2 linked regions of the Homo sapiens genome follow. The gene in region 1 interacts genetically with each later gene. Each region holds a gene or a part of one and is shown on either strand. Other genes may lie near its edges.

Region 1 (5,064 bases):
CGTGGTGGCACATGCCTGTAATCCAAGCTACTTGGGAGCCTGAGGCAGGAGAATTGCTTGAATCTGGGAGGCAGAGGCTGCAGTGAGCCGAGATCGTGCCACTGCACTCCAGCCTGGGTGACAGAGCAAAGCTCCATCTGAAAAAAAAAAAAAACCCTATAGTTACCTAAAAGAAATGAAAGCTTATGCTCACAAAAAGCCTCATACAAGAAAGCTCTTAGTTTTAGTCATAATAACCCCAAAACTGAAAACAACCAGGATGTCCATCTATAGGAGACTAGATAAATGGATATAGTCATACAATGTAGTATTACTGAGCCAAGAAAAAAAAAGGAATTAACTACTGATTTATCCAACAACATGGATAAATCTCAAAAATATCATGCGGAATAAAGAAGGCTTGCACAAAAAAGTAAAATCAAGAATGATCCCACTTACATGGATTACTATGCCAGACACAACTAATCTATCGTGGGAAAAAGTTCTTTGGGGTATAGGGACTGGGACTGCCTGGAAAGGAGCATGAAAGAAACTCCTGGGGTGACAGTGAAGTTATAAACCTTGAAAGAGGTATGGGTTTCATAGGATAACAAACGTATTAAATGGTACAATTAAGACAAGCATTTCAAGCAATCAATTAATTACGCTGGTACCCTACTCTTCATATTAGAACTAATTTTTTTTGTTTGAGACGTAGTCTTGCTCTGTCGACCAGGCTGGAGTGCAATGGCAGGATCTCGGCCCACTGCAACCTCCGCCTTCTGGGTTCAAGCGATTCTCCCACCTCAGCCTCCCCGGTAGCTGGGATTATAGGTACCCACCATCATGCCCGGCAAATTTTTGTAGAGATGGGGTTTCACCATGTTGGCCACACTGGTCTTGAACTCCTGACTTCAGGTGATCCGCCCATCTCGGCCTCCCAAAGTGCTGGGATTACAGGTGTGAACCACTGCACCCGGCCTCAGAACTAATTTTACCTTAAAATTTTACCTAAAAGCCAGGTGCGGTGGCTCACACCTGTAATCCCAGCACTTTGGGAAGCGGAGGTGGGCGAATCACAAGGTCAAGAGATAGAGACCAGAGACCAGCTAATTCTAGCACTTTAGGAGGCCGAGGTGGGCAGATAATCAGGTCAGGAGATCAAGGCTGTCTTGGCCAACATGGTGAAACCCCGTCTCTACTGAAATACAAAAAAAATTAGCCAGGTGTGGTGGCACATGCCTGTAATCCCAGCTACTTGGGAGGCTGAGGCAGGGGAATCGCTTGAACCTGGGAGGCGGAGGTTGTGGTGAGCTGAGATCTCGCCACTGCACTCCAGCCTGGCGAAAGAGCAAGACTCCATCTCAAAAAAAAAAAAAAAGAAAGAGACCATCCTGGTCAGCATGGTGAAACCCCGTCTCTACTAAAATTACAAAAATTAGCTGGGCTTGGTGGCGTGTGCCTGTAGTCCCCGCTATTCGGGAGGCTGAGGTGGAAGAATCGCTTGAACCTGGGAGGTGGAGGTTGCAGTGAGCCAAGATTGTGCCACTGCACTCCTGCCTGGTGACAGAGCGAGACTCCGTCTCAAAAAAAAAAAAAAATGCCGAGCATGGTGGCTCATGCCTGTAATCCCAGCACTTTGGGGGGCCGAGGCAGGCGGATCATGAGGTCAGGAGATCGAGACCATCCTGGCTAACACGGTGAAACCCCGTCTCTACTAAAAATACAAAAAAAAATTAGCCGGCCGTGATGGCGGGCGCCTGTAGTCCCAGCTACTTGGGAAGCTGAGGTAGGAGAATGGTGTGAACCCGGAAGGCGGAGCTTGCAGTGAGCCGAGATGGCACTCCAGCCTGGGTGACAGAGCAAGCCTCGTCTCAAAAAAAAAAAATTACCTAAAGAACCTTAAAACAGTAAATTGTAAGTCAGTGTTATGTAAGAGGGGTGAGGTATACCGATGTGTACACCTACAACATACTTTGAAATGCATCAAGAAAAATTTGATGGAAAAACTTTACAGAGATTATCTTGGGTTTGAAAAATAAAAGAAAACCTGATAGATACATAATATAATAAGATGTTAATTGTAGAATCTAGGTCGTTGGTATTATATAAATGGGTGTTCACGGCACAATTCTTTCAACTTTTGTGTTTATTTATTTTTGAGATGGAGTCTTGCTCTGTCGCCCAGGCTGGAGTGCAGTGGCGCTGTCTTGGCTCACTGTAAACCTCTGCCACCGGGTCAGCAATTCTCCTGCCTCAGACACTGAGTAGCTGGGATTACAGGTCTGTACCCACCATGCCAAGCTAATTTTTGTATTTTCAGCAGACATAGCGTTTCACCATGTTGGCCAGGTTGGTCAAGAACTCCCAGCCTCAGGTGATCTGCCCACCATGGCCTTCCAAAGTGCTGGGATTACAGGCGTGAGGCACCACGCCTGGCCAACTTTTGTGTTTAAAAACTGCTATAACAGGCCAGGTGCAGTGGCTCACACCTGTAATCCCAGCACTTTGGAAGGCCCAGGTGGGCAGATCACCTGAGGCTGGGAGTTCCAGACCAGACTGACCAACACGGTGACACCTCGTCTCTACTAAAAATACAAAAATTAAGTGGGTGTGGTCACTCACACCTGTAGTCACAGCTACTTGGCAGGCTGAGGCAGGAGAATGAACACAGGAGGCGGAGGCTGCAGTGAGCTGAGATCGTGCCACTGCACTTCAGCCTGGGCGACAGAGTGATACTCTGTCTCAAAAACAAACAAGCAAAAAAAACCCTGCTATAACAAAATGCTGTTTTGTTGGGAGAATATATAAAGTCTCCCTTTTCTCTCTTCCATTTACATAGTACCCATATATACATCTCTATCACACACATAAGTATTGTTAATAATTTCATGTATAGTCTTTCAGTTTGTTTATGCATATATAAGCAAAATCAAATAATACATTATTTTTTCTTTTCAAAAAGAAATTAGTATAGATTCTATAGATTCTATTCTGAATTTTGTTTTTTTTTCTCTTAATATTTCTTGGAGAGCTTACCATTGTCAGTACATTGAGAGCATCTTCATTCTGAATAGATACGTTATAATTTTTTTTTTTTTTTTTTTTTGAGATGGAGTTTTGCTTTGTTGCCCAGGCTGAAGTGCAATGGTGCGATCTCGGCTCACCACAACCTCCACCTCCTGGGTTCAAGTGATTCCCCTGCCTCAGCCTCCTGAGTAGCTGGGATTACAGGCATGCGCCACCATGCCTGGCTAATTTTGAATTTGTAGTAGAGACGGGGTTTCTCCATGTTGGTCAGGCTGGTCTCGAAATCCCGACCTCAGCTGATCCGCCCGCCTCGGCCTCCCAAAGTGCTGGGATTACAGGCATGAGCCACCGTGCCTGGCCAATTTTTTTTTTTTAATGTAGTCACTCAGTGGACATTTAGGTTCCAAACTTTGCTACTGCAAAACTACAATCAATGTTTCAAAGGTGATTTTCTTTTTTTTTTTTTGAGACAGTCTCGCTCTGTTGCCCAGGCTGGAGTGCAATGGCACAGTCTGGGCTCACTGCAACCTCCACCTCCCAGTTTCAAGTGATTCTCCCTGCCTCAGCCTCCCAAGTAGCTGGGATTACAGGCACCCGCAACCATGCCTGGGTAATTTTTATATTTTTAGTAGAGATGGGGTTTCGCCATGTTGGCCAGGCCAGTCTCGAGCTCCTGACCTCAGGTGATCCACCCCCCTCAGCCTCCGAAAGTGCTGGGATTAGGGCGTGAGCCACGGCGCCCAGCCTCAAAGGTGAATTTCTTTCTTTTTTTTTTTTTTTTGAGGAGTCTCGCTCTGTCGCCCAGGCTGCTGGAGTACAGTGGCGCAATCTCGGCTCACTGCAAGCTCCGCCTCCCAGGTTCACGCCATTCTCCTGCCTCAGCCTCCCGAGTAGCTGGGACTACAGGTGCCTGCCACCACGCCCGGCTAACTTTTGTATTTTTAGTAGAGATGGGATTTCACCCTGTCAGCCAGGATGCTCTCGATCTCTTGACCTCGTGATCCACCTGCCTCAGCCTCCCTAAGTGCTGGGATTACAGGCGTGAGCCACCGCGCCCCGCCTCAAAGGTGAATTTCTAAACAAATGCTTAATTAAAATTACAATGTTATTTACTCTTTTACTTCTTATATTTGACCTATTTGACCCTTCAAAAATACAAATGCTTCAAATCCATTAAAATCATACACAGGTCTGTCAGCCCATTAAATATAACACGCAGACAGCCAAGTAGCAATTTTTTCAGCAAAAAGCTCCCACAAAATTCGATCACACTAGTTAGGCTATCGTCTATGTCAGGCAAGCCAAGCCTCATAAAACTGTATATATCTGTAGTCAAGTAGGCCAGGTAAACATTGACTCTCAACATCATTCTGTTCTGTAATATTGGCCAAATATTTATTGCAAATATCAGGCCCTCAACACTGAAGATAAAGTGCACTGCTATTAAGTGTCCAATATGAAGTACAATGAGATAATCAAATCCATTTTTTAATTAATTTCCTTTATTATAGACAAAATGAATTACTAAATTTACTAATTAAATTTAATACTTTGCTTAAACAAGTACTATTCACACTTTTTCATGAAGGACCTCAATCCACAGTATTTTTGTAAAACAGAATAACAATGTTATGGCAATGTCAAATTGCTATAAAAGTTTCTAATTACTCTTTTTTTTTTTTTTTTTTTGGAGACAGAGTCTCACTCTGTCACCCAGACTGGAGCAGTGCAGTGGCGCAATCTTGGCTCACTGCAACCTCTGCCTCCTGGGTTGGAGCAACTCTCCTGCCTCAGCCTCCTGAGTAGCTGGAATTACAGGTGTGCGTCACCATACCTGGCTAATTTTTGTATTTTTAGCAGAGATGGGGTTGCACCATGTTGGCCAGGCTGGTCTTGAACTCCTGACCTCAGGTGATCCACCCACCTCAGCCTCTTAGAGTGTGGGGATTACAGGCGTGAGCCACTGCGCCCGGCCAATTACTCATTTTTTGAACTTAATGTATAACAAACACAAACACATAGTTTGGAGATAAGTGGGCAAACCACACTTTGAGT
Region 2 (5,064 bases), on another chromosome or scaffold:
TCAGAACCCCCAGAAGAGATTTTTAGCAAGTGTGTACATACACATACACATGCACATATATGTCCCTGCCAAGAATCCCCGGTGATTCTTATGACCAAGAAAATTTGAGAAAAAAAAAAACTGATCTAACAAGCTGCCTGGCAACAGCAGAATGCTCAGTAAAAGGTAGCTGAATGTGTAAATGAATAAGTGAAATAGGAAGCCAGTACAGCCTATTCAGGTGTAGTAGAGTGGAAAAAGCATGGCTTTTGAAGTCAACTCTGGGTTCAAATCCCAATTTCACTACTCTTTCTGATTCACGTTGTCCAAAAGGTTATGCCTGCTGTCCTTAGTTAAACTGTACACCTATCTGACTACAAACACACGTATAACAGCACATAGCTACCATGTTTGTGAGCCTCTACGTATACACAAAAGTAAAGCAAAAACAAGGGAGAAAAGACAGAAGAGATGACTTCACTATCACTGCCCACTAGGTGAAACTGATTCTGAATTTAGAATTTCCACCCTCCCTCTCCATACCACTGTTCCAAAGAAGAGTGATCTACAAATTAGAACTGATCTTCCATTAAGTATTTCCTTAGTGGCCATGACTGATTTGAACTTGATTTGACTATTTTCTACTCTGAAAAGAAGCTTGCAGGTATTATAAGAACATACCTCTTGGGTTTGTTTTCTGGCTACTTGAGAAAAAAGATCTTCACAAAATCTTGGAATTATTCCTGGTTCTTCACTAAATCCCATCATCCTGAAAAATACATTATGAATAAGGGGGAAATAAAACTAATTCTTTCTTTAAAATTCTTTTTGGGGAAATAGGCTGGGAAGGGAGTAGGAAGCAAGTTCACTGAATCTCATAATTAAGAATCTGGACTCTGGAGTCAAATCTGCCTGAGTCCAAATCTTGACTCCAAGATATTTAACCTCACTAAACTTCAATTTCCTCTACTGTAAAACAGGAATAATACAACTATCTAATTCAGAGAATTGTTGTGAAAGAATATAAGCAAAGTCTTTAGCACAGTGTCTGGAATATAGTAAGAACTCAAATGTTGGGCAACCCGCTTGGGACCCCTCCACGCTGTGGACTGTGGAAGCTCTGTTCTTTCGCTCTTCACAACAAACCTTGCTACAAAAAAAAAAAAAAAAAAAAAAAAAAAAGAACTCAAATGTTAGCTACTGTTAAAATGCTGAGTATTTCTTTCTAGGACAGGTATTATTATCATAGCTACCATTTATCAGATGCCCCTCCACCCTTTTTTCTTAAGAGATGGGGACTAAGTTGCCCAGGCTGGACTCGAACTCCTGCACTTAAGCAATCCTCCTACCTCAGCTTCCCAAGTAGCTGAGACTACAGGTGTGTGCCATCACATCTAGCTTAGATGCCTTACTTTTAATTCTCACCAAAATACTTAAAAGATAACCTCTCTAGGCCTTAGTTTATGTAAAATATATAAAGTACAGTAAAATGGGGCCAATGATAATTACAAGATGAATTGTATCAAGGTAAATGTATAAACTGAAGCCCAGAGGCTAAGTAAATTGCCCAAGTTTGCAGAACTGGTATATAAAATGGATGAGATTTGGGCCAAGATCTGTGTGATTTCAAAACTATATTCTTTCTATCACCCCTATGCCACTTCTCACAAAAGTATATTTAAACACTTCTGGATAATTGCATTTCCAATACAACTTACGTATATGATTTTCCAGAGCCAGTCTGACCATAAGCAAAAAGACAGGTATTGAAGCCTTCGAAGGCTCTTTCTAGGAGTGGTGCTGCTAGCTTCTCATAGACAGTTGTCTGGCTAGCGTAGTGAGGATGACATTCATCAAAAGACCAGAATGAAACATCATAAATAAAATTATAAACTTGTTTCGTGTCAGGGTGTTCCACAGTTATTTCTTTCCCACTCATGAAGACTACCTGGGATGCTTTTTCAATCTTCTCTCTTGAAAGAAGCACAAAGAAAAAAATCAAGTAACTAAAATGATCAAGGGTATTATTCTCACAGAACATAATAAATACCTCAAAACTATTTAAACAATCTTCCAAGGCAAGATAATTCTGTAGTTTTATGTGGAAAATGCAGATAAGCAAACATAATTCTAGTGGGTTTCCAAAATATATTTCCTGAGGCTCCAGTGCCACCAAAGGGAAAATCCCAGATTCCTCCAGAAAACCTATCCTACTTTTACAAGATTTTTTCCTCTTTTTTTTTTCTCTTGAACTATACCTTTTCCCATCCCACCTACTATAATCTACCTATACTCTTCATCCAAATCTACATCTTTATTATACAAATTTGGGGGGGTACCAATCTAAATAAAGCTGGCATAAAATACAAATATCTAATTTTAACAAACTCAGTTGACTGTAAGTTTCAATCATAAGTCTCTCTTGGCTACTAAAGATCTCTCCTCCTTCCTCTAGATTCTCTCCCTTAAAATCATGAATCTTTCTGTATATCCTTTTTCCCTTTGAGACTTAGGTGGAAATCTTTCATTTACTTTAGATCTACAGAAAAACATCATCACTCTTTGTCTGGCTCCAGATATACACTCCCTCCCCGCTCCATCCCTGACTCTGAGACTGCTTTAAATCAGAATTTATTCTGGAAAAAACACCTGCCTCATCAATTTGACAAGTACTCTACCCTGGCCCTGCTTTCAAGGCTTGTCTGATGAGTTTGGAATCAGGCACTTGGTCCCTTACTAAGTTCAGTATAGTCATCCATCTTGCATTTTGTCCCTACCAGCTCTTTCTATTGTTTCTCTTCCTATCATGGTTCTTGAGGCTCTATTAGACATTCCAATTCTCTCAAACCAACTCACCCTCAGTTCTCCCTCTTAATACTAACCCATTTGCACGAAAAAGATTCTACAGTACTGTATAACTTGCCTTTAACTACTGACCCCTTAGGTTCAAACTGGAGGTTCCTGCCCTGATGCAGTGGTCACCAAATCCTCTTCTAACTTGCTTAGATACACAGCTTCAAGTTAAACACTACTAACTCTGTGAAGTTTTTCACTGTCCCTTAAAATATTTTAAACAACTACATTAAAATATTTTAAAACAATTACATTTTGTCACATTCACATTTTGTCATGTCCATCTTTTCCAACCTTATCTTTAATCTGTGTCTTCCCCACCCACAACCACTTTTAGAGAGAGATTTTTTGCCATCAAAATCAAATCTAATGTATCACTGCATTTATAACTACTATATAGTAATCGGAGACAATGATGATGATAATCACCACTCTGGAAAGGGTTTTGAAAGGACCTCTTTAGGGAACCAGTAATTTGTTATGGCTCTTCTTTTTTTTGAGACAGTCTCGTTCTGTCGCCCAGGCTGGAGTGCAGTGGCCTGATGTCAGCTCAATGCAGCCTCTGCCTCCCGGGTTCAAGTGATTCTCCTGCCTCAGCCTCCCGAGTAGCTGGGATTACAGGTGTGCAACACCATGCCCAGCTAATTTTTGTATTTTTAGTAGAGACAGGGTATCACCATATTGGCCAGGCTGGTCTCAAACCCCTGGCCTCAAGTGATCTGCCTGCCTTGACCTCCCAAAGCAATGGGATTACAGGCGTGACCCACCACACCTGGCCTGTTATGGCTCTTTTTAAGGGATAGGTATAACATTCCAGCATATATTGCAGATCTGAAAGCAGATTTCATTAGAGACCTAAGTGACTTATTCAGACTTTTTAAAAGCAATATATCTAGAGAAACTTCAATATACAAAATATGGTGATTCAATTTTTTAATTTTATAGTCAGTGATCAAAAATTATCAACACACACTACAACTAGACCTAAAAGTTCTTTCTATATAAAAGTATTGCCAACAAGTTTGAAGATGCACGAATACACTGACCTTCCAAAGGCAGAGAGGAATTAAAGGTACCTTACATGTAACTGCTTGGCTTTAGATTTTAAAAGGCATCACATACCTCTTGGTGAAAGGTCTTACGCGTACTGCCACTGTCACTTGACTATTCTCTACTTTTAAGGGGTCTTTTCCTGCAGAGGTGTTCTGAACTACAGTTTCTTCTTCGGGAAGAATTGTATTTTCTGCGGATCTTTCCTGTTTATTTGCAAGAAAGGAACTTTTTGGTCTTTGTTTAACTTGAAGGTTAGACATTCTATTCTTCAGTATTGATGGAGCTGGGCTCTTAAGCTGAGGCAGGCTGCACTTTGTTGTCAGTTTGTGTTCTGTTGTACATTTTGTAGGTGTTCTTTTTTCTAAGCTCCCAAATTTATTTGAAGTTTTTGCAATTTCCTTCCCAATACTTCTATGATACAAGTTTCCTGTTCCCAACACTTTGATATCCAACTTGCTCTGAGTAGGTTTCGTTGTCAAGTGTCCTGATCTAACAACTTCAGTCTGACTCAGGGAAGCAATGGGTGGTCTATTACTTGAGTACTTAAGTGCAACATTTTCATTTGCTCTACTGGGGGCAGAAAATGTTTCTTTGTATTTCTTATCAGCCATCATTTCAATGACCTGTGGATCTTCATCTAAAGGTACAGAAGAGGCAACAAAAGAGTTTTTAGCATTATTTACAATCCTTACATTTGTTCTACTTTCCTTAGAAACACCATTATTTTCTGTTTCACCTCCCACATTCAGTGTCATTTTGACAGAATCTATTTCAGCTGTTTTCCACTTTTCTGCAGAATCTGTTTTAGCACGACGTTGTAATGTAAGACGTGTTTCTGCTGTTTTTTCAGTTGTGTCTTCCAACTCACTAACAAGCAAAGATGATTCTTTGTTCCTTGTAGTTCTCCTCTGAAGTGCCAATCTACCTACAGGATTAGGGGTAAGGGGCATGTCTGCTGTTTTTCTACTGGCAGAAATAACATAAGTTCTATTTATGTCTCTGACTTTACCTGCAGATCTCAATAATGGATCATCATTTTCACATTCTGACATATCCGACTTCAAATGCAGCTTAAGTCGGCTACTGTGGGTGAGGGCATTCAGTGATGAACTATTTTGGGAAGAAGGAATATCAAGAATATCACCGCTGTTATTTCTATTATGAGTACTGTGTAATGAC

The links. Genes that interact genetically often act in the same process or in processes that back each other up.
Region 2: changes in CAMLG (region 1) and KIF14 together harm fitness more than expected from each alone (negative genetic interaction), as found in Homo sapiens cells (one large-scale study listed by BioGRID).

Annotation. Positions count from the first base shown.
Region 1 is NC_000005.10:134,744,162-134,749,225, reverse strand, and holds part of CAMLG (guided entry of tail-anchored proteins factor CAMLG), read right to left. Parts: intron 1-5,064. UniProt on the Homo sapiens protein: Required for the post-translational delivery of tail-anchored (TA) proteins to the endoplasmic reticulum.
Region 2 is NC_000001.11:200,613,658-200,618,721, forward strand, and holds part of KIF14 (kinesin-like protein KIF14), read right to left. Parts: coding exon 3,955-5,064; intron 1,953-3,954; coding exon 1,698-1,952; intron 749-1,697; coding exon 661-748; intron 1-660. UniProt on the Homo sapiens protein: Microtubule motor protein that binds to microtubules with high affinity through each tubulin heterodimer and has an ATPase activity. Plays a role in many processes like cell division, cytokinesis and also in cell proliferation and apoptosis.